Linked DNA regions of Homo sapiens: region 2 is linked to region 1. Evidence: fine-mapped expression QTL. Tissue or cell type: whole blood. Region 1 holds a variant in brackets; the other region holds the start of a gene. All regions are shown on one strand. Distances are between the middles of the regions.

Evidence for each region. PIP is the estimated chance that this variant, and not a neighbour inherited with it, causes the effect.
Region 2: SLC25A29 starts here. The variant in region 1 is fine-mapped to the expression of SLC25A29 in whole blood (INTERVAL, PIP 0.93).

The regions. Positions count from the first base shown.
Region 1 is chr14:100,354,323-100,359,541 of GRCh38, reverse strand. It overlaps WARS1 (tryptophanyl-tRNA synthetase 1), which reads left to right. Exons shown (of 11, transcript NM_004184.4): 5 at 4,976-5,095. Among named protein-coding and RNA genes, the nearest start is that of WARS1, 18 kb to the left of the region's middle. The variant ACC/C (reference allele first, on the strand shown) is at 3,158.
Region 2 is chr14:100,303,734-100,308,952 of GRCh38, reverse strand. It overlaps SLC25A29 (solute carrier family 25 member 29), which reads left to right and starts at 2,509. Exons shown (of 4, transcript NM_001039355.3): 1 at 2,509-2,754. The coding sequence starts at 2,721. It overlaps MIR345 (microRNA 345), which reads right to left and starts at 1,094; the gene lies at 997-1,094. RefSeq lists enhancers at 1,529-1,698, 1,729-1,798, 3,007-3,573, 3,826-3,885, 3,936-4,015 and silencers at 1,889-1,958, 2,049-2,518, 2,579-2,678.

The sequences.
Region 1 (5,219 bases):
TAGGCATAAATGGGTTAACAGTCATCCCCCATTTCTCCCTCCCCACTGGCAACCATTAGTCTGCTTTCTCTATATCTAGATTTAGGCATTTTATATAAATGGGATCATGTAACATGTGGCCTTTTGTGTCTGGCTTCTTTTACTTGGCATAACATTTTCAAGGTTCCTCCATGTTGTAGCATGTATCCATACTGGATTCCTTTTTATTGCCAAATAATATTCCATTGAATGGATATACCTCACATTTTGTTTATTCATTCATTAGTTGATGGACGTTTGAGTTATTTTCACTTTTTGGTTATCAACAATGCTGCTCTGACCATTTGTATACAAGTTTTTGGGTGGATATATGTTTTCAATTCTCTTGGGCATATACCTCGAAATAGAATTAATGGCTTATATAGTAATTCCATGTTTAACTCTTTGAGGAACTGACAGACTTTTCTACAGCAACTGTATCATTTTACTTTCCCACCAGCAACATAGGAAGCTTCCCATTTCTCCACATCTTCACCCACTCTTGTTATTTTCCATGTTGTTGTGTTTTATAGCCATCCTAATAGGTGTGAAGTAGTATTTCATTGTGGTTTTGATTGTATTTCCCTAATGACAAGGATGTTGAGAATCTTTTCATGTGCTTATTAACAATTTTTATATCTTTAGAGAAATGTCTATTCAGATCCTTTGCCTACTTTTTAATTGGGTTGTCTTTTTATTGTTAGTTATAATAGTTCTTTCTATATTCTGGATACTAGTTTCTTATTCAAATATTACTTGCAAATATTTGCTCCCATTATATAGGTTGTCTCTTCACTCTACTGATAGTCCTTTGAAGTATGAAAGTTTTTAATTTTGATGAAGTCCAGTTTATTTTATCTTTGATTGATTGTGTTTTTGGTGTCATATCTGAGAAACCACTGACTAATCGAAGGTTGTGAAGATTTACACCTATGGTTTCTTCTCAGAGTTTTGTGGTTTTAGCTCTTACATTTCAGTTTCTGATCCTTTTTGAGTTAATTTTTGTATATTTGTGAGGTACAGCTCCAACTTCATTCTTTTGCTTGTGGGTATCCAATTGTCCCAGCACTGTTTTTTGAAAAGACTATTCTTGGCTGGGCGCAGTGGCTCATGTCTGTAATCCCAGCACTTTGGGAGGCCAAGGCAGGCGGATCACGAGGTCAGGAGATTGAGACCATCCTGGCTAACACGGTGAAACCCCATCTCTACTAAAAATACAAAAAATTAGCCAGGTGTGGTGATGGGCGCCTGTAGTCCCAGCTACTCGGGAGGCTGAGGCAGGAGAATGGCATGAACCCGGGAGGCGGAGCTTGCAGTGAGCCGAGATCGCGCCACTGCACTCCAGCCTGGGTGGCAGTGAGACTCCGTCTCAAAAAAAAATAAGAAAATGTGAGTACTCAAACATGGTTCTTTTTCAAGATTGTTTAGGTATTCTGGGCCCCTTGCATTTCCATATGAATTTCAGCTTTTCCATTTCTGCAAAAGCAGCAGCTAGGATTTTGATAGGGATTGCACTGAATCTGTAGATTCATTTGTGGAGTATTGCCATCTTAAAATATTAATTCATCTAATCCATGAACATGGGATGTCTTTTCACTTCTTTGATTTCTTTCATTGATGTTTTGTAATTTTCAGTGTATAGGTTTTGCACTTCTTTGCTTAGATTTATTCATTAGAATTTTATCTTTTTAATGCTATTCTAAATGGCATTTTCTTAATCTCATTTTGATTGTTCATTGCTACTATATAGAAATACAACTGATGGCCGGGCACGGTGGCTTACACCTGTAATCCCAACACTTTGGGAGGCCGAGGCGGGTGGATCACTTGAGGTCAGGAGTTCGAGACCAGCCTGACCAACATGGTGAAACCACATCTCTACTAAAAATACAAAATTGGGCAGGCATGGTGGTGGGCGCCTGTAATCCCAGCTACCCAAGAGGCTAAGGCAGGAGAATCACTTGAACCCAGGAGGCAGAGGTGGCAGTGACCCGAGATCGTGCCATTGCACTCCAGCCCGGGCAAAAAGAGCAAAACTCCCTCTCAAAAAAAAAAAAAATACAATTGATGTTTGTGTATTAATCTTATATCCTGAAATTTTGCTGAGTTTATTAGCGCTAATGCTTTTTTTCTTTTTGCAGATTCGATAGGATTTCCTACATATAGGATTGTATCTCCTATGATTAGAGACAGTTTTACTTCCTCCTTTCCAATTTGGATTTTTTTTTCGTTCCTAATTTCTCTGACTTCAACTTTCAATAGGATGTTGAATAGTAGTGGTGAAAGTGAGCATCCTTGTCTTATTCCTGATCTTAGGGGAAAAACTTTCAGTAAAGACTGAATATACACCATTTAGTATAATGTTAGCTGTGGGCTTTCTATATACCCTTCAACATGTGTTTTTATTATGAAAAGATGTTAGATTTTATCAAATGCATTTTCTGTGTTTATTGAGATGATCATGTGGGTTTTGGCCTCTATTTTATTAGTATGGTGTATCACACTGATAGGTTTTTGCGTGTTTAATCAACCTTGCGTTCCTGGAACAAATTCCACTTAATCATGGTGTTGAAAATCAATTTATTTTCAATCATAGTGTATAATCTTTTTTATATGTTGCTGGATTTGGTTTGTGAGTTGCTGAGGATTTTTACATCTGTGTTCATAAGGGATATTGGTCTGTAGTTTTCTTTTAATGTCTTTGGTTTGGTATCAGGGTAATACTGGCCTCATAGAATGAGTTGGGAAGTATTTCTTATTCAATTTTTTTTGGAAAAGCTTGGGAAGGATTGGTATTAATTCTTTTTTGAACATTTGATAGACTTTACCAGTGAAAATGGGGTTTTGGGCTTTTCTTTGTAGGAAGTTTTTTGATTACTAATTCAGTCTTTTTGTTTGTTCCAGATCTGTGTATATTTTCTATTTCTTCTTGGGTTCGTTTCAGTAGTTTGTTTCTAGGAATTTGTCTATTTCATCAAGGTTATCTAATGTATTGGTATACAGTTATTCATAGTATTCCCTTATGTAGTAATCCTTTTTATTCCTATAAGGTCAGTAGTAATACCCCTTCTTATATTCCTGATTTTGGCCGTTTGAGTCTTCTCTTTTATTCCACACCCCCCCCCACACACACACACAC[ACC/C]CAGTCACTTTGGTTCAAAGTTTACTAATTTTGTTGGTTTGTAGTCAGCATTTTTTATCTTAGCATGGCATGGTTCTTCTCACTGCCTTTGTGACTTATTTATTAACTGCAGTATAGTAATACTGTAGCCTCTTGGCTTAGGAAAGCATAGGACCTGAGTCATTTGCCCATTCTCAAATTTCAAACTGCCCCTCTGTCTAATTTTGTCATCTGTAAAATTGGGGATTAAATGAGATCTACTATGCACAGTCAAGCTTCAAGTGGTGGGCAGGTAACTGGGTTCCCTTAGTAGCTGAATGAGTCTCTGCTGGAATCCATCCTCATAAAACATGATCTCAAAATTGGAACCCAGTAAATTTCTGCACGCTTGTCAGGAGCACCTCACCCCAGGACCGAGCACACAGTGAGTTCTCAGATGCTCCACATAAACACAAGAAAAGCAGCTCGTGGCACAGTTACATTTTTTTCTCTTCTGTAAGCCCATATGGTTAGTTGTGAGAACCAAAGAAGGATTCTTTCCTTCCAAAATTATGGGTTATTTTCTTTCCTTATTTCAAAAGCAGTATGTGAGCATTTCATGGGGAAAAAAAATGAAAACTAAGCCCAAAAACCAGAACACCCACAATTGTATCTGTCCAGAGATAAGCAATGTTGACCCTTGGCTTGGGGAATATAAGGAGAAGTCACTTTCAGAATACTGTTCTCTAGATTCTCCTATCCAGACCTCTGGAAAAGGTAGTTATTCCTCTTGTATTTGGGGACACTTTACCCAGAAACAAAGGACATTCATCCTCGAGCGTTGGTTTCCCACCCTGCTGAACATTGGAACTCCTCACGGAGCTTTTTAAAAATACAAATTCCCGGCCAGGCGCAGTGGCTCACACCTGTAATCCCAGCACTTTGGGAGGCCGAGGCAGGCAAATCACGAGGTCAGGAGTTTGAGACCAGCCTGGCCAACATGGTGAAACCCCGTCTCTATTAAAAACACAAAAAATTAGCTGGGCATAGTGGCAGGTGCCTACTATGCCCAGCTACTCGGGAGGCTGAGGCAGGAGAATCGCTTGAACCCAGGAGGCAGAGGTTGCAGTGAGCAGAGATCACACCACTGCACTCCAGCCTGGGTGACAGAGTGAGACTCTGTCTCAAAAATAAATAAATAAACAAACAAACAAACACATTCCCAGAGAGCACCTCAGATCCATTGAATCAGTCTCTGGAGGTGGGGCGCAGGCAGCTGTGATTGGAAGCAGCCTGGTAGGGAGGGGGATGACTCTTGAGTGACTTGCAGATGAAGATACCTAGTCCCAAGCTGGCTGAGGGGCCCAGATAGATCTCCAACTGGGCACTTGACCTCTGAACTCCCAGAGGACAATTCTTACTTTCCCTGCTAAGCCAGGACTGTCTGGTCCCATGCAGTTTGCCTGGTATTGGTCTGAGAGTCCTCGGGGCTGGGTGATTCTGAGCAAGGATCATATGGTGTTGGCCTGGTATCCCCAGGGAAGTGTACCAAGCTCACAGTATGTCGGCACTGATGTTTGGAGGGATTCCAGGAGTCCCAGTAACTGCATAGCTGGATCCATCTTTTAAACACATTATTCCAAACCTACACATCTTGTCTTTTAAAACACTCACAGGAGAAACCATTTCAGTAGAAGTTTCCTGTCTATATTTATATCATAAGCACCAAAGGTAACAAATTCTAGTTATTATCCATGTTGTTTCGTCTCTGTCTATATTTTCCATTTCCAAAAGTGCATTAGTGCCTTGATATTTTTCTCAGAAAATCACACTCTTCCTCTTCTCCTTTTTCCTTTAGAGATATGAATCAGGTTCTTGATGCCTATGAAAATAAGAAGCCATTTTATCTGTACACGGGCCGGGGCCCCTCTTCTGAAGCAATGCATGTAGGTCACCTCATTCCATTTATTTTCACAAAGTAAGTATTGGATCTTATGGCTTTTCTTACTCTCTTAGTGAATTGAGAATGTTGCTTATAAACCATGTTTAGAACTGACAAGATCATGCTAGTTCATTTGCTGAGCAACCAAGATGTCAAGAGT
Region 2 (5,219 bases), 51 kb after region 1:
AAATCCAACAGCCCTCCCCCGACCACACACACACACCCAGAACCCTGCCCTCTCCTTGCAAAGTGCACAGCTAAGGGCCCGCACTCCTCATCTCCCAGGCCTGGCACGATCCCACTGCTGCCCTCACACGGCCTGCCTCAGCTCTCTCAACAAAGGACCCTCCCTGCAAGGAGGTTTTTCTTTTTGAAATAGGGTCTTGCTCTGTCATCCAGGCTGGTGCACAATGGTTCGATCATAGCTCACTGCAGCCTTGACCTCCTGGGCTCAAGCGACCCTCCTGCCTCGGCCTCCTGAGTAGCTAGGACTACAGGCCTGCAGGCATGCGCCACCACATCCTGCCGATTTTTTTTTTTTTTAGAGATGGGGCCTCACTATGTTGCCCAGGCTGGCCTCAAACTCCTGGCTTCAAGCGATCCTCCTGCCTCAGCCTCCCAAAGTGCCTGGATTACAGGCATGAGCCACTGAACCCAGCCTCAAGGAGGTTTCTGAAGCTCAACTATGGAATACCTACTGTTTACCAGGCTACTAGGCCCCTTCCCAAGGACCCCAGGGACTGACAGCTCAGTGCAACCTGCCCCAAGCATAATTTTCAAGGCATGTGCATTCTCTCAATAACAAAGCAAAACAGGTCATGCTTGTCTCCTTATCCGTTTCCATCATTTTCTCACTACTGCCACATGCTGTCAAGGTACTGGATTTCCCTCCCAAACCTCCTCAACCAGGAATGGATGTGCAGGGATTTGTGCTTTACCTCATGAGCCCTCCAGCATCCCAAGGACATCCTGTTCCTAAGGTAAGTGACTACATGTAGGTAGTCCAGTGTAATCACTGTGTCTGCAGGAGGCCTCCAGCCACCTGAGTAGCCCCACAGCCAGCTCCTGCCCTTTTGGGTCTGGGCTTCTCTTGGGGCCCCCATACCACTGCTTTTCTGGCCCATGGGCCACTCTCCCCCATCCGCACACCTGCCTCCCTGAGGCAACCAAGTGGGTCAGAGAGGCTGTCGATATTCAAACCCAGGCCTCCAGACCCCTCGTTCAGGGCCCACCAGCCATCACGAGCCCTGGACTAGGAGTCAGCAGACCTAGGGTTTGGGTCTCTGCTTAACATTCTACTTAGACTCTAAAAGGAAACTAACATGAGCACTGGGGACCCCTGCCCCTAGCACCAGGCTGCACTACTGACAACACCTACCTGTGTGTCCTAGTACCAAATACACAGAACCTTTCGACCTGCACCTCCAGGAGGTAGGTACCCACTGGAATTTGGATAAAAGAACCATGTGACCCTAAACCTGGAAACGTGGCACACGGTGTGGCCTTGCCTGCCTGCAGGCCCTAAAGAAGGAAGCTGGGCCCGGCCTAAGGCTGATCTGACTCCTACAGCGAAGAGAAAGCGCCTGGCCCGTCCCTGCTCCCAGGCTCCAACCTGACAGTCTGGACCTCCAGAGGCGCTGGGGAAGGGCTGGTGGGAAGTCACCGAATGGGACGCTCCACAGGGACCAGGGCAGTCCCTTGCCACTGCGAATGTCAGGGACTCCTGGGGGGCCGAGTCAGACTCGGCTCTCATTCATCCCCGCAGCCCATGGATACCCTGGTGACCCAGAGCCAAGCACCCTCCGACTTCAGCGCCTGAGCGCGGCCCCTACCGAGCCCCTCCGGTCTCGCCCCGTCCGGCCGCCGCTGACGGAGGCGCTGCGATCTGGCCCGACTCCACTCTGCAGCCCAGTCCAGGAACCTCCCTCTCTCCACAACCTTCCGCGGCTCCCGCGACCCGCAGTCCTCGGGAAGGAGCTGTGGCCCGAAGGCCTGCTGCGCCCTTTGCCCATGGCCCCTTTCCCTTTTAAGGTTCCCTGCTCTCCGCCCAAATCCCAGCCTCAGGCTCCGCAGGAAGCGCCCGTGCGCGTCCGACCCCCAGAACCCGGCGGGTTCGGCCAGGAGTCCGGAAGCCCCGGAGGCCACCGCCGCCGCGGGCGCGCAGGCGGGACGGGCAGAGGCTCCCCACGGGCGATTCCCGCTCGCGGAGTTTCGCAACTAGCGGCGTCCCAGTCTGCGGGCCTCGGAACGTCCCGGCGCTCCACGGCCGTTTTCGCGGCAGGGTCCGCACGGCACAGACTAGGGCGCTGAGGTTCTGCGGCGGCGCCGGACTCCGAACCCAGGGTCCGGTTCCCGACCCGGTCCAGACCAGAGCCACCCCGCGTACTCCGGGTGGGGGAGTCCTCGGCTCAACCCCGCCACCCCGCGCGTCCCCTCCCGCCGGACCTGCGCACCCAGCGCGCTCTTTGTCTGAGGCGTCCCCGCGCCCCGCCCGCGCGCCCACCACGTCCCCCGCGCCCCGCCTCCCGCGCACGCCCGGCCAATGAGGCGCGGCGGCGAAGCGCAGTGCCCGGGGTGTTGTCCGCGCCGTGCCCGCCCATTGGCCTCACTCGGCGCCCCCACCCGGGCCCTGCCGGCAGGCACGAGGGGCGGGGCGCGCGGCCCGAGGTGAGGGACCGCGGGCCGGAGGGGATCCAGCGAGTCAGCTGCCGCCGAGGGACCAGCGCGGGTCTAGCTGCTGCCGCCATCCCCACCATCCCTGACCGCGCCTGCCCGGGCTCCGCGCCAGGAGGAGCGGCCAGGCCCAGCCCCGGCACCGCGCGCTCGGGGACCCCGACGGCGCCCAGCCCGGCGAGGGGCCTCAGGGGGAGGACGAGGAGGAAAGGCGGCCTCGCCGGGGACCCGGCCATGGCGCTGGACTTCTTGGCTGGATGCGCGGGGGGTAAGGAGGCGGCGGGCCGGGCCGGGCCGGGGCGAGGCGTCCGGGGAGGGAGGTCGGCCCACCAGCACGCCCTGGCCTCGCGGCTTCCCGCTGGCGGGGGTCGCCGCGTCTGTGAATGGGGACCACAGTTCTCTTGCCTCGGGCGGGTCTCGTGGGCGTAAATTGACTTCAGGCCCGGGCTGTCCGCGAGGGCAGGTGTCTTTATTCTCTCTGGGCACGCTCGGACGGGAGGTCTGGGGCGCCGGGGCAGCACCGTGGCTGAGCGGAGGCCAGGACTGCCGGGAGGATGCCCCACTGCCCCCCGCGCCGAGGTCCCGGGCTCATCTCCTTCCCCTCCCCCATCCCCATCCGTTGCGCACTGGGAGCAGGGTCCCCTCCCCCGGCCGTATATTTCGGGACTGACTCCACCCCGTCCCGCGCAGCCATCCAGCGGGGTTGGGGCTACGGAGCCGACCCCCTACTCGGCTGGCCTTGGAGGGCACTGAACCACTCTGGCGCCGAGTCACGCCTTGGAACGCCGCCCCTTCCTACGCGGTTTTGTGAGCTGTTGGGGGCGGAAGGGGGGTGGTGGGTGGGTCGGGCGAGCCGGTGTGGGGCACCTTCTCCGAGGCGCGGTCGCGGCTCTGGGGTTCCTCCCATGCAGTTGTCCCCGGGAGGGCCCGGGCGGGCGTGCAGTCCAGGCTCTCCCATGCCCCGACCGTGGGCGTCGGGCACGGCACTTCCCTGTTGGGCCTCTGGCTTCTCTGCTTTTACCTTGAGGGTTAATTTATTCACCAGGATTTAGATGTCGGGGGCGGGGGAGGGTGGTTGGCGGCGGGAGTTGCTGAGAGGGCCGGCCGCTTATCCCTGTTTGGTCCCACTTTTCTCCCAGCACCTGCCCTTGTTCACCGCCTCTTCATCTACTTGGATTTGGCTCGAATAAACCCTCAGCTCCCGGCCAGCGCTGAGAGCCCTGGCGGAAGAGTGGGTAGCGGTGGCCTTAAGTATTAAATCTGTGGCGTCGGAGCCTGCTTCTTGGGGGAGAGACTCGTTGAAAAGGGAGTGTGTTGGGGAGGTGTTGTGCGCTGAGGGGAGTTAGAACTTCCCGGTCGGTTACCCAGTGGGAAGCTGCGGGGCACAAAGCCCAGAATTTGCTGCTAATCGCTGGGTGCCCTGGAGACAGAGGGGGCGTGTCCTCTGCGGATTCCATTCTCACCTTCCCCTCCCGCTTCTGATCTCGCTGTTTGCTCCACCCTTGCTCCCCACCCACTATCAGCTCCAGCGGGTGGGGGTGAAGGGCTGTCCCCAGGCCAACACCTCCTTCCAGGCTTTGGGGAGTGGGGATTCTTTCCCCGGATGGGCAGAGTTCCTTCTGCAGTGGCGCTACCGTCCGTGCTGCCCTCCTGGAAACACCGGGGTTTGGGGCAGGAACACTTCACCTGAAAGCAGGCCTGCTTGGCGCCTCCCGGCACATCTGTGGTCTCCTCTGCACGTCGCTCGCGCAGCCTCCTTGCCTGGAATGTCCTTCGCTGCCCATCCTCATAGGCCCACCTGGGAGAGATCATATCCATGCCCCCTGCCCCAGGTTTGTGGGTCAAGGACTGGCACTGTCTGGTGCTGTAGCACTGGGGCACAGGCCACCCCCCTGCCCCCAGGCCCTGCTTTTCGTGCAACCCCCAGGCACATAATGGCCACCCAGCTAAGGCTCTACAAGCGTAAGCCTGAGCCTCCCAGGTGGACAAGGACAGAAGTCACCTGGGGGCTCACTCCTGGTCTCATCGGAGAAACCTAGGCCCAGAGAGGTGGGGGTACTAAAGCAAAGTCACACCACATGCTCCTCTGATGGCCAGGGTGAGCCTGCAGTCCTCTCCTCTCCCCCTTACTCCAGGGTGCTGGGGTGGCCCCTCAGGACAGTGAACTGACTGTGTCCCAGGCTCCAGGTCCCTGGCACAGCTGGGGTCACACTGACAGCCTGCCCAGAGGCACCCCACCTTGGGACCCGTACCCCAGCAGCCCCTGCCTGGCTCCTTCTTGGGGTGCCCCCAACCTACAGGCTCAGGGCAGATAATGCCAGTGCTTCTCCTTGGTGGCTGGGGAGGGGGACTGTCCACCCCCTACTATTCGCCTAGTGTGGGTCACGTGTTTTAACTTCTCAGGGAGGCGGGGCCAGCATCTTGACTGACAGCATCCTTGAGGCCTTGCATGGTGGAAGGTTTGGAATGCCTCCCCCTCTCCCCTACTGGGGGATCAACCCAAATCTTGAGGCCACATAGACACTGGGCTCTGGATGGACAGAAGCAGGCGCAGAGAGAAAAGCTCAGCTAGGGGTGGGAGAACCCGGGAGGAGAGGTAACCCCAAGAGGGAAGGGTGCCTCTTCCACTACCTCTGCTACCAGCCATCCCCAGGACAGTGGTTCCTCCCCACCCCGCCCAGCCCTGAGGACTACTGGTTGGGGATTGCCTCCGGAGCCCAGCTTAGGGAGGAC